4 separate regions of the Homo sapiens genome follow, and all the other regions are reported to be linked to region 2. The links are microRNA targets in miRTarBase. Many come from high-throughput screens and were not tested one by one. Region 2 holds a microRNA gene; each other region holds the end of a gene's coding sequence. Distances are from middle to middle.
Evidence for each region. The annotated mature microRNA hsa-miR-3924 reads AUAUGUAUAUGUGACUGCUACU and lies in region 2 at 1,949-1,970, opposite strand. An mRNA with a match to its seed (bases 2 to 7 or 8) in the 3' UTR can be bound and repressed. Matches are read on the target gene's strand: a 7mer-m8 pairs with bases 2 to 8, a 7mer-A1 pairs with bases 2 to 7 and ends in A, and an 8mer does both.

Region 1 (3,184 bases), not on the chromosome of region 2:
ACACAGGCTGGCCCAGCCTATGATAGTGTTGTACAGTCTGAGTGGTTAGAAGTCATCCCTTTGTTTTTAAAATCTGCCTACCTTCCACTCATTCTTCAGCCCCCTTGAAACACAAGGTCTGCACTTCAAGGATTTGAAATCATTTCACCAGTCTTTTTTTTTTTTTTTTCAGTTCCTTCATCTCCCTATTTGACAGTTTCTTGACATTTCACCTTAAAATACAGTTTGTCAGTGTCCCTCATAAAAGTATAGTTGGTACTAGAACAAGATGTGATAATCTGCATACAGGCTATCAATCAATGAATTGTGAAACTGTTATCTCACCTGAGTTAGGTACTAAATTTCTGTTCATTTGAGATAATGTAAAGCAACTAATTTTTTGTGGTTTTATTCCTCCTCTCATTAAATAGCCTTCTTCCTTAAATAATCAGCTAGTATCTGTGGACTGCAAGAAAGGAACCAGAGTCCAGGTGGACAGTTCCCAGAGAATGCTAAGAATTGCAGAACCAGATGCAAGATTCAGTGGCTTCTACAGCATGCAAAAACAGAACCATCTACAGGCAGACAATTTCTACCAAACAGTGTGAAGAAAGGCAACTAGGATGAGGTTTCAAAAGACGGAAGACGACTAAATCTGCTCTAAAAAGTAAACTAGAATTTGTGCACTTGCTTAGTGGATTGTATTGGATTGTGACTTGATGTACAGCGCTAAGACCTTACTGGGATGGGCTCTGTCTACAGCAATGTGCAGAACAAGCATTCCCACTTTTCCTCAAGATAACTGACCAAGTGTTTTCTTAGAACCAAAGTTTTTAAAGTTGCTAAGATATATTTGCCTGTAAGATAGCTGTAGAGATATTTGGGGTGGGGACAGTGAGTTTGGATGGGGAAATGGGTGGGAGGGTGGTGTTGGGAAGAAAAATTGGTCAGCTTGGCTCGGGGAGAAACCTGGTAACATAAAAGCAGTTCAGTGGCCCAGAGGTTATTTTTTTCCTATTGCTCTGAAGACTGCACTGGTTGCTGCAAAGCTCAGGCCTGAATGAGCAGGAAACAAAAAAGGCCTTGCGACCCAGCTGCCATAACCACCTTAGAACTACCAGACGAGCACATCAGAACCCTTTGACAGCCATCCCAGGTCTAAAGCCACAAGTTTCTTTTCTATACAGTCACAACTGCAGTAGGCAGTGAGGAAGCCAGAGAAATGCGATAGCGGCATTTCTCTAAAGCGGGTTATTAAGGATATATACAGTTACACTTTTTGCTGCTTTTATTTTCTTCCAAGCCAATCAATCAGCCAGTTCCTAGCAGAGTCAGCACATGAACAAGATCTAAGTCATTTCTTGATGTGAGCACTGGAGCTTTTTTTTTTTTACAACGTGACAGGAAGAGGAGGGAGAGGGTGACGAACACCAGGCATTTCCAGGGGCTATATTTCACTGTTTGTTGTTGCTTTGTTCTGTTATATTGTTGGTTGTTCATAGTTTTTGTTGAAGCTCTAGCTTAAGAAGAAACTTTTTTTAAAAAGACTGTTTGGGGATTCTTTTTCCTTATTATATACTGATTCTACAAAATAGAAACTACTTCATTTTAATTGTATATTATTCAAGCACCTTTGTTGAAGCTCAAAAAAAATGATGCCTCTTTAAACTTTAGCAATTATAGGAGTATTTATGTAACTATCTTATGCTTCAAAAAACAAAAGTATTTGTGTGCATGTGTATATAATATATATATATACATATATATTTATACACATACAATTTATGTTTTCCTGTTGAATGTATTTTTATGAGATTTTAACCAGAACAAAGGCAGATAAACAGGCATTCCATAGCAGTGCTTTTGATCACTTACAAATTTTTTGAATAACACAAAATCTCATTCTACCTGCAGTTTAATTGGAAAGATGTGTGTGTGAGAGTATGTATGTGTGTGTGTGTGTGTGTGTGTGTGCGCGCGCACGCACGCCTTGAGCAGTCAGCATTGCACCTGCTATGGAGAAGGGTATTCCTTTATTAAAATCTTCCTCATTTGGATTTGCTTTCAGTTGGTTTTCAATTTGCTCACTGGCCAGAGACATTGATGGCAGTTCTTATCTGCATCACTAATCAGCTCCTGGATTTTTTTTTTTTTTTTTTCAAACAATGGTTTGAAACAACTACTGGAATATTGTCCACAATAAGCTGGAAGTTTGTTGTAGTATGCCTCAAATATAACTGACTGTATACTATAGTGGTAACTTTTCAAACAGCCCTTAGCACTTTTATACTAATTAACCCATTTGTGCATTGAGTTTTCTTTTAAAAATGCTTGTTGTGAAAGACACAGATACCCAGTATGCTTAACGTGAAAAGAAAATGTGTTCTGTTTTGTAAAGGAACTTTCAAGTATTGTTGTAAATACTTGGACAGAGGTTGCTGAACTTTAAAAAAAATTAATTTATTATTATAATGACCTAATTTATTAATCTGAAGATTAACCATTTTTTTGTCTTAGAATATCAAAAAGAAAAAGAAAAAGGTGTTCTAGCTGTTTGCATCAAAGGAAAAAAAGATTTATTATCAAGGGGCAATATTTTTATCTTTTCCAAAATAAATTTGTTAATGATACATTACAAAAATAGATTGACATCAGCCTGATTAGTATAAATTTTGTTGGTAATTAATCCATTCCTGGCATAAAAAGTCTTTATCAAAAAAAATTGTAGATGCTTGCTTTTTGTTTTTTCAATCATGGCCATATTATGAAAATACTAACAGGATATAGGACAAGGTGTAAATTTTTTTATTATTATTTTAAAGATATGATTTATCCTGAGTGCTGTATCTATTACTCTTTTACTTTGGTTCCTGTTGTGCTCTTGTAAAAGAAAAATATAATTTCCTGAAGAATAAAATAGATATATGGCACTTGGAGTGCATCATAGTTCTACAGTTTGTTTTTGTTTTCTTCAAAAAAGCTGTAAGAGAATTATCTGCAACTTGATTCTTGGCAGGAAATAAACATTTTGAGTTGAAATCACACAGTGTAACTTGCAAAAAGATTCCATCTCTGAGATCCGAAAGACTTTTAAGGTTATCAGTCCAATGAACCCCTGGTGTAACAAGAAGTCCCGTGCTTTTGTCATTAGGCGGGTCTTTCCCAAGGTATCCTTGCAAAAAGAAAAGTGTCTCCCAGAGTACAG
Region 2 (3,184 bases):
TCTACGTTATTTTTACAGCCTGCAATTAGTTCTAGCAACAATTGGTAGTACCTGAGAAATAAATCCCTGCTTCAAAAGCACATGCACACGTGCACTCAAACATCTGTAAAATTCATGCCACACACACACACACACACACACACACACACACACACACACACACTGTTGTCTTCACACCTTTATTAAATGACTGGCTTTTGTGGCATTGAGCTTGTGATGTCAGGAATAAGGAATCACATAGTTTCTGATGGAGTAGGGAGGGAAAAGTCAAGAGAAAGACTGAAAGGAGATGTGTGAGAGCTCCATAAACAAACAGCCTTCTTTATAATTTTGTGAGCAATACTCTTCAATTGTTTGGAAGCAGAAACTAGCTGGTTTGCATTTGCAGAGAGCAGACAATTTCTCCCTCAAAAGATTTTAAAAACGTTGTATCAAAAATGAATTAGTCTGTTATTTCAATCTTTCTTTTTTCTTCTTTGTTTGATGAGGAGTTGACTTCTTTTTACCAGGCTCTGTCCTCTCAATTTAGTAAGTCTACTTATGGCATATAGTGCACTGAACTGGTTTATTGAGAGCATTTCTATTATCATAAATAAATGGTCATTCTTAATTCAAACCATTAAACCAGGTTGGCAACCATGTCATTGTAGTTTGTGCATAAAAATATTTTGCTAGGTGAGGACAGCCAATTCTTTATTAGCATGAAAGCTACAAAAGAAAAAAAAAAGATAAGTGACAGGTATTTCCTTAAATGCAAAGCAAAAGTACAAATTCTACACAGTACAAAATGGAGAAGGGATATGAGATGTGAAGAAGCAAACGATAATTTTATTTTACACTGGAGCATAGAGGGAGCTTATTGACAAAGGCCTGGGGTTGTATTTGCATCCTTGCAGTACACTATTTAGTCGTGAAGATTTACTTAGTGGAAAGTCACTAACCAGCTTATTAAAAGTCAAACAATACCTGGAAAAAAATTCATGTATGCCATTGCAATTACATAAGGCCATTTTATTTATAAAATAAAAAATTTATAAAGCAAATAATGAATCAATATAAAAATAAAAGTTTATATTTGCACCGTGTTTTTATTTCTGTTATACCAGTTGATTTTAGTCTAATAAATTTATGAGGAAAATTTAAACAAAAATGTGTTTCCCAAGAACGTTTATATTTGCCTCTACCAAGTGGCCTCTGTGTTTCCCAGTAGGGATGCTGACTCAGCAAAATCAGCATTCATGACTCTAGTTGTCCAATATAGGGAGACAAAATGGCCAATTTAAGTCATTGTGCTTTGTCTTTCTCTCACAGACAGACAGACACACACGCACACACAAACACATGCACACAAAGAAATGATAAGGTTCAATGAAATACTCCATACATTTCCTTCAATTTTACTTTATAATTTTATAATTCTAAGGGTTTTTTTTAATTAAATGATCTTGTCCATATAGGGCACTGGTAAATAAAGTAAAGTCTAGAGAAATCACAAATGCAAGTTGAACTAGAATTTTGTTTAGAGATTTCTAGGGTAATAAGCAGATGAAGTAAATCTTTTCTTGCATCTGTGGCCCCCAAAAGAAATAACTTGTCACTCTAAATTATCTTTGAGACAAAACAAATTTGTCAGCTATAGTTGTCAGAAAACTGTAAAGTGATGTACTTTAAAATAAAAATTTTAACACCTTTTTCCTCCCTAATCTCCAGATATATTGGAAGTCATGAAATTAAAATGCAGTGTTAGGATAATATTTGCCTTTTTGGTAAATATAATTTATAATCTTAAATTCAAGTGTTAAATATTGAGTCTTTCCTTGGCTTTAGGATTAAACAATAGGTGATGCCAAAATATGAGAAAAGCATCTTCCAAGGTACAATTGCATATCTGTTACATACCTGCATACATAGAAAAGAGAAAGATAGGGGTAAGAGAATTAAACAAAAAAGTAGCAGTCACATATACATATCTGTATATATGACATAGATCTGCATATTTGACTACTACTTTTTCATTTATTTTAATTTAAATACATATTTATGTACACATATGTGCGCATACATGTATCTCTCTGTGTGTATCTATATATTTGTTTTGGAAAATATCAGGTTCAATCAGTTTAACCAGGTTTACTTTTCACAGGACATTTCAGAGTATTTAAAAACTATACTGCATTAAAAATCTCCAGGAAATGATGTATGTGAAGAGCTCCAGAGTGTTGTTTCTCATAGAAAACTTTTTTCATAGAGAAGTTTTTTCATAGAAACATTTTTTTTTAATTTCCAATTTTTATTTTAAGCAGGGGCACATGTGCAGGATGTGCATGTTTGTCACATAGATAAACTTGTGCCAGGGTGGTTTGTTGCACAGATCATCCTGTCACCCAGGTATTAAGCCCAGCATCCATTAGCTACTCTTTCTGATCCTCTCCTTCCTCCCACCACTCACTCTCCAACAGGCTCCAATGTGTGTTGTTCCCTCCCATGTGTCCATGTGTTTTCATCATTTATTTCCCACTTACAAGTGAGAACATGCAATCTTTGGTTTTGTGTTCCTGCATTAGTTTGCTAAGGATAATGGCCTCTGCCTCCATCCATGTTCCTGTGAACTCCTCTCTAACTCATTCTATGAGGCCAGCATCATCTTGATACCAAAACCTGACAGAGATGCCATAAAAACAGAAACCTTTAAAGCCAATGTCCTTGATGAACATAGATACAAAAATCCTCAACAAAATACTGGCAAACTGAATCCAGCAGCACACCAAAAACCTTATGCACCACGATCAAATAGTCTTCATCCCCAGGATGCAAGGCTGATTCAACATACGCAAATCAATCATTGTGATTCATCACATAAACAGAACTAAAGACACAAACCACATTATAATATCAATAGACACAGAAACTTTTAAGATGTCAATCTTCCAGAGTCAGTGACTGTCTCTATTACTTGGGATTTGTAGTTAATTTGTTTCTATTCTTACTAATTTAGAAAACACAATTTCAAGTTCTTGCAAAACAAAACACCTGATGTTTTTCAATAATTTTGTTTGTACTATGATGACATGCAAGAAACAAAAAATAACAATTTTCAAAAACCCATTTAAATGCTTTCATTTGCTAGAGTTTACTTCTCTGGAAATTTCATCCTTCAAGACAAATGAGAACCAGAGAATAAAGA
Region 3 (3,157 bases), 76 Mb from region 2:
TACCCGTGGGCACGAGCTTGCCCCATGGGGTGGCATGTTGAGCCAAATGCCCTTACCCTCTATGTCAGGGTTGAGTAAGGAGCCAAATACCTTGCGGGCCCCCCGTGTCCGCACAGCCTTCACCATGGAGCAGGTCCGCACCTTGGAGGGCGTCTTCCAGCACCACCAGTACCTGAGCCCTCTGGAGCGGAAGAGGCTGGCCAGGGAGATGCAGCTCTCAGAGGTCCAGGTGAGGTGGGCCGGGCAGGCTGGGGTGGGCAGGGGTGGGCAAGGGTGGGCTGGTGGCCTAGTCTCACCCCTGTTCTGATCTTGCTTTTCCTACAGATAAAAACCTGGTTTCAGAATCGCCGCATGAAACACAAACGGCAAATGCAGGACCCCCAGCTGCACAGCCCCTTCTCGGGGTCTCTCCATGCGCCCCCAGCTTTCTACTCAACGTCTTCTGGCCTTGCCAATGGCCTGCAGCTGCTGTGCCCTTGGGCACCCCTGTCCGGGCCCCAGGCTCTGATGCTGCCCCCTGGCTCCTTCTGGGGTCTCTGCCAAGTGGCACAAGAGGCCCTGGCATCTGCGGGAGCTTCCTGCTGCGGGCAGCCTCTGGCGTCCCACCCCCCTACCCCAGGCCGGCCTTCGCTGGGACCAGCCCTGTCCACGGGGCCCCGGGGCCTGTGTGCTATGCCACAGACGGGGGATGCATTTTGAGGAGGCACCTCTGACTCCCACACTCGCGGTCTTGCTGATCGCACCTGGCTCCTACCTGGAGGACTCAGTTGTTCTGTTTACATCCTGGTGGCACCTCTCACCCTGACCCACACAAAGGTTCTGGAGATTACTGGAGAATATATATAAATATATATATGTACGTATATATGTAAATACACATATACGTATATATAAATATATATATACATATGTGTGTGTATATATATATATATTTTTTTTTTTTTTTTTTTTTTTGAGACGGAGTGTTGCTCTGTCACCCAGGCTGGAGTGCAATGACGCAATCTCGGCTCACTGCAACCTCCGCCTCCTGGGTTCAAGCGATTCTCCAGCCTCAGCCTCCCGAGTAGCTGGGATTACAGACACCCGCCACCACGCCCGGCTAATTTTTTCTATTTTTAGTAGAAATGGGGTTTCACCATGTTAGCCAGGCTGGTCTCAAACTCCTGACCCTGTGATCCGCCCGCCTCGGCCTCCCAAAGTGCTGGGATTACAGGCATGAGCCACTGCACCCGGCCCTGAGAATATATTTATTAAAGCCACCTCTTCACTGAAAGTTACCGAAAGAGTCGGTTTAGGAAGGAAACGAAGGGTCAGTGAACAGAGTCAAATGCAGAAGTGGGCTTGTCATGGGTAGGGCTTTCGGCGTACGATAAAAGGATCATTTGTTTTTTAAAAGGGGTTGGAAAAACTGGTTTTCCAGTTGGAAACAGTAAAGGTTGTAAGCTTTGTGTGTACAAAAGAAAACAGGGAATGCAGGTGTGTTTATAGCGTTGTGGTTCAAGTCCCTCTTAACAAGAACTCCAAAGCTGGAAAGCAGGAGGGAACAAAGGTGAACATGAAGGCGAGGATGCTGGGGCCCTGCAGTGCGCTCTAGGCTGTGCGTGAGCCGGGACTGTACCCACAGCTTGCTGAGGGCTGCTCTTCTTGGGCCAGGGAAAGCAGGGCAGCCGGGACCTGCGGCTGTGCCTGGACTGAAGCTGTCCCGCAGGTCCCCACCCTCCAACACGTGCTCACCTGTCCCCCTGCTCGCAGCAGCCTCGGGACAAAACAATGACTCAAGGACAGCACTTCTTGCAGAAGGTCTGGAAGTGCCCAGAATGGGAGGCACGGAAGCCCCTCCCGGGGAGGACTCCCGCGTTGATGGACCGTTCTTGGTGCAGACTCCTGACTGCGTGCATGAAACCTGAGACAAGTGCAATTCCTTCCATGTCGCCCCAGAGTGCCCAGGAGGCAGGCAGTGCGGGGTGCCCAGGCAGACGGGTTCAGCCTGCAGAACTGGAGGCGACCTGTGAAACCCACCCGGGCACCCCAACAGGAACAGAAGCGTGGTCCTGCGGCTGCGTCCCCAGCGAGTTTCACTTTCCCCTTGCTCGTTTCTCCCTTGTTGTAAGTGTTTACAACTGGCATGTGCTTTTAAACGTCAGGTAAGAGGGGAACAGCTGCTGTACATCGTCCTGGCGAGTGACAATGTGACAGAAGCCTGGGCGAGGCCCTCGGAGGGCAGCAGCTGGACAGGGACTACTGGGTTTGGCCTGGACAGCACTGATTTGTGGATGTGGATGGGGGCACGTTGTCCGTGATAAAAGTACAAGTGCCCCTCACCGCCCGTGGAGATTGCTTTCTGGTCCCCTGTGTGGCCCCAGGCCACAAACCACACCGTCTTGGTCCTGAACTCTCCCGGTGAGTAAGGGCCCTGGCCTGGTGGTGTCTCGAGGTCCTGCCAGCACACTGGGCCCTACAAGGTGGGCAGCCCCTTGGGGCTGAGCTGTGCCTGTTCGGAGGCACACCTGGGCCTCCTTAGGGCCCTGGCTCCATCCTGCAGATGAGGAGCTCTGGAAAAGGGCAAAGTCCCGGAGGCTGAGGAGTGGGGCGGGCTCCAAGTGTCCAGCAGGGACCTAGACCCTGAGTTCTGGGGGATCCACAAGGCCCTCAGGCCCAGGGAAGGCTCTGCCACCCACGACTTCCAAACTTCTCTCCCTGTCCCCCATCCGGGGCTGCAGAGTGAGTTGGCCCAGGCCTCATGGGCTGCTGGTATCTGGGTGGACCTTGAAGACCAAGATGCCCCCAAGCCCTACTCCACCCACCTGCTGCGTCACAGCTGGCCGGGATGCAGTGACCACTCCGCTGGCCTCAGCCTGTTTCCGCTCTCCCCTGGGGGCCTTCCTCACATCCCCACAGCCTGTTTCCGCTCTCCCCTGGGGACCTTCCTCACATCCCCGCAGCCTGTTTCCCACTCTCTTCTGGGGTCCTCTGGCTGACAGCTGGACGTCAGTCCCAGAGTTTGGCAAGTCCTCTGCTCCTGGATGCCCCCAGCTGCCCCCACAAGCACAGTGCCCCAGGTGCTCTTGGCCCCACCCCACTCAACATCCCCATGTGGACATCTTACAAGCACTGGGGGTCCTGACCTGACTGGGGGCGCAGGGCGGCGGGGCAGAGA
Region 4 (3,184 bases), not on the chromosome of region 2:
GGCGCCACTGCATTCTAGCTTGGGTGACAGAGTAAGACCCTGTCTCAACAAACAAACATCTGATGCAAATAAAGCATTTGTTAAATATTATTTTGTATACTTACCTATTAATCTGAAATACTATATGAAAAAATTTTAAATGTGAAACATAAGCAATATTGCCTTTAACATTTACAGTAGGTTAAACATCTATTCAACTGACCTCTGTTCACTAAAACATTAGTAATGCTCATCTTTTTTATAAATAATTCTCTACAACCTAACACCTAGTAAGTAAAGCTTTTATTGCTTCTCTCCTGGAAATTATCCTATAAATGGGTTAACCTTGTAATGTTGATTCAAAAGCACAAAGGGAAAAGGCAATAGAAGTCCTTTTAAGATCTACTTTAATCTCAATACTTTTAAGTTTTAAATTTTGATCTCATTAACCTTATGAATGTCAACCAACAGAAAAATAAAACACACCAAAAGATCCAGAACTCTTTAAGGATTGTAAAGGGACAAGCTTGAAAGCCTGACGCCAATCCTCTCTTTGTCCAAAACCACCACCCTAACGGCTCCAGCCCCATGAATTCCTAGTTTAAGAATCTCTATATCAGATGCTATCAAAAGTTAGTAATCGTAGCTAACATTTATAGAGTGCCTACTAAATGCGGAACACTGTTCTAAGGGCTTTACATTTGTTAATTCACTTTTAAATCATAAACACACTGAGATCAGGAAAGTGGTTTAACTATTCTTAGTTTCAGTTCCCCGTAGTACAGTACAGTAAGATATTCTGAGAGACCATATTCACATAACTTTTACTACAGTATGGTTTTAATTGTGCCACTTCATTATTAGTCCTTGTTAATCTCTTACTGTGCTCAATTGATAAACTTTATTATAGGTGCATGTATGGATAGGAAAAAAGACAGTTCACATAGGGCTTGGTACTACACTTGGTTTCAGGCATCCCAGGGGGTCTTGAAACATATCCCCAGTAAACAGGAGGGAACTACTTACTTTATTTCCGACTTCCACATAAGCAAACTGAGGCACACAGAGGGCAATTTGCCTACAGTTAAACAGCTAGTAAGTGGTGTAGACAAGATTCAAATCTAGGCAGTTCGGTTGCAGAGCACACACTCTTAAGCAGGAATCTTTGCTAGTTAATTAGACAATTAATGAGAAAAGGTATATCAGGAAAACAATCTAAGAGTTGCAAATAAGTATTTTCTAAATGAGGTCGGAAGAAAAAAGGATAGAACCATAGTCTCCAAAGCATTTCTGTCTGTTTTATTCCTTGCCAAACATTAAAACTGTGATTCTATTTCCTGCTTTGAAAATCAGTTCTGTTTTGCACTGCTCAATGCCTTTAAGATGAAGGTTTCTTTGTAATATTAACAATCAGTGCACTCTTTCTTTCAACTCCTTTATTAAATTGGTTGCAAAAAAGATATACATTCTTATATTGACAATTCTTGTCATGAATAAAAGCATCAAAAATAAGGCAACAGCAAGATGTGCTTCACATATAAACAATCATGTTGTAAGAATAAGAAACCTGAATCCCTGTACAACAAAAAGATTAGGAAGCAAAATGTGAATAAGCTTGTATTCAGAATATACCTATATGTGTGTGCAAAGACAATACACTCATCATATACCTCACTTAGGTTCCTTTATGATGCATAATTCCTTAATCATTCATTTGTGAAACAAGAATGAATATTAAGAAACATGAAATCCAAATTGCACTTATTTTCACAATATCAATGCTAAACTCAAAATAGCAACTTCATTGACTCTCAATGGTAAATTTCAAACATGGAAAGCAATCTTAATTTTTTTAACCCTTTGACTAGGGTCTGTAAAAAACGGTGGATTATTTTACTGTACTTACAAAGAGGCTGGGTCTCAGCCTGCACTTAAACAGCATGAGCAACAAAGGACAGGAAACAAATATCACTAAGAGTAATGCCCATACATATAAAGATATCTAGTTGAGCCACGTTCTACTTACATAGCAAGCCTATTAAACCACTAGCATAACAGATCATATCTCATGAAACAGAATTACTAAATTAACTACACATCTCTCAGAAATTTCCAAATCCCTGCTCCCAACACAATTTTAGTACACCTATTAAGTACCACGGGTCATTTAGAAAAACAGAAAAAAATATACACCTAGTCTTTGCAATTAAAAAAAAATCATAACATAAACAATGTTAGATATAAATTTTGAACTCAATATGTTTTTTCCTACATATTTATGTAATCAAGGCTCTTTAAGCAAAGACAGGTGGTAGGTATATGATCTGTACAAACTTACAGTAGTGTATATTCCAAATAAAGGTTTTTCTTCCTACTATGGTATGACAATATAACTGTTTTCTGAATGAAGATACATGTTAAGGCTTAAGGTGTAAACACTTTGGAAGGCAAACAGCTTAGTGAAAAAAATTATGGTTCATTTAAAAATGTGTATCATTTCATAATAGACCCCTGAACTTTCAAATTTACATGTGAGAATACATTTACATCTTAACTTTCTAGGAAAGGCACAGGCTTTATGTAAAAAAGCAGCAAAGTTTTAAACCCACCAATATATTGACAAAGCCATTACTTTTATTAGAAACAAATAATGCTTCTCAAGGTGTTGGCAACATGTCATAGTATCAACATATACTTCATACAGTGTATTTCTCCCTTTAATTATATTCCGGTAGGAGGTGGAATACCTCCTTGGCTATGAGGGGCAGATGTATTTGATGGACTGTGTAGGCTGGTCTCCTTGTACACAAACCAAGCATTTCCTCCCCAGAGTATCATATTTAGAAAGCCAAATATCTATGAAAGAGAAAAAGAAATATGAAAATCAAATACCTACTTATAAAAATTCATGCCCTACTTAAAAATCTCACTTTTTCTTTAAATATTTAACATTTTTAGGAAGTACGCCATTATTTCACTTAAAGTTTAATACTACACACAATGAGAAATAAGGAAGACTACACTTCAATGTACAAAATGTGGTTATATAATGACTTATTCCCAATGAAATAAGGCTAAATCTCTAACATATAAAATCATGGCTAAGAGATTTACTCTTCCAAATACTTTTCACTTTTCTCCTATTTAGAATGATTATCAACTGCTTGTGTAACTTTTCCCATTTACTTATCACCCCCTCCTACCA

Region 1: the mRNA of CRIM1 is a reported target of hsa-miR-3924. Seed matches in the 3' UTR shown: 7mer-m8 at 1,735-1,741.
Region 3: miRTarBase lists VENTX as a target of hsa-miR-3924. Seed matches in the 3' UTR shown: 7mer-m8 at 903-909.
Region 4: miRTarBase lists SYPL1 as a target of hsa-miR-3924. Seed matches in the 3' UTR shown: 7mer-A1 at 2,556-2,562 and 7mer-A1 at 2,256-2,262.

Annotation. Positions count from the first base shown.
Region 1 is chr2:36,548,115-36,551,298 of GRCh38, forward strand. CRIM1 (cysteine rich transmembrane BMP regulator 1) reads left to right here. Exons shown (of 17, transcript NM_016441.3): 17 at 411-3,021. The coding sequence ends at 587. Among named protein-coding and RNA genes, the nearest start is that of FEZ2, 48 kb to the right of the region's middle.
Region 2 is chr10:57,302,541-57,305,724 of GRCh38, forward strand. MIR3924 (microRNA 3924) reads right to left here and starts at 2,019; the gene lies at 1,939-2,019.
Region 3 is chr10:133,239,608-133,242,764 of GRCh38, forward strand. VENTX (VENT homeobox) reads left to right here. Exons shown (of 3, transcript NM_014468.4): 2 at 69-229; 3 at 325-2,321. The coding sequence ends at 699. Among named protein-coding and RNA genes, the nearest start is that of VENTX, 3.3 kb to the left of the region's middle.
Region 4 is chr7:106,089,105-106,092,288 of GRCh38, forward strand. It overlaps SYPL1 (synaptophysin like 1), which reads right to left. Exons shown (of 5, transcript NM_182715.4): 5 at 1,401-2,835. The coding sequence ends at 2,701. Among named protein-coding and RNA genes, the nearest start is that of SYPL1, 22 kb to the right of the region's middle.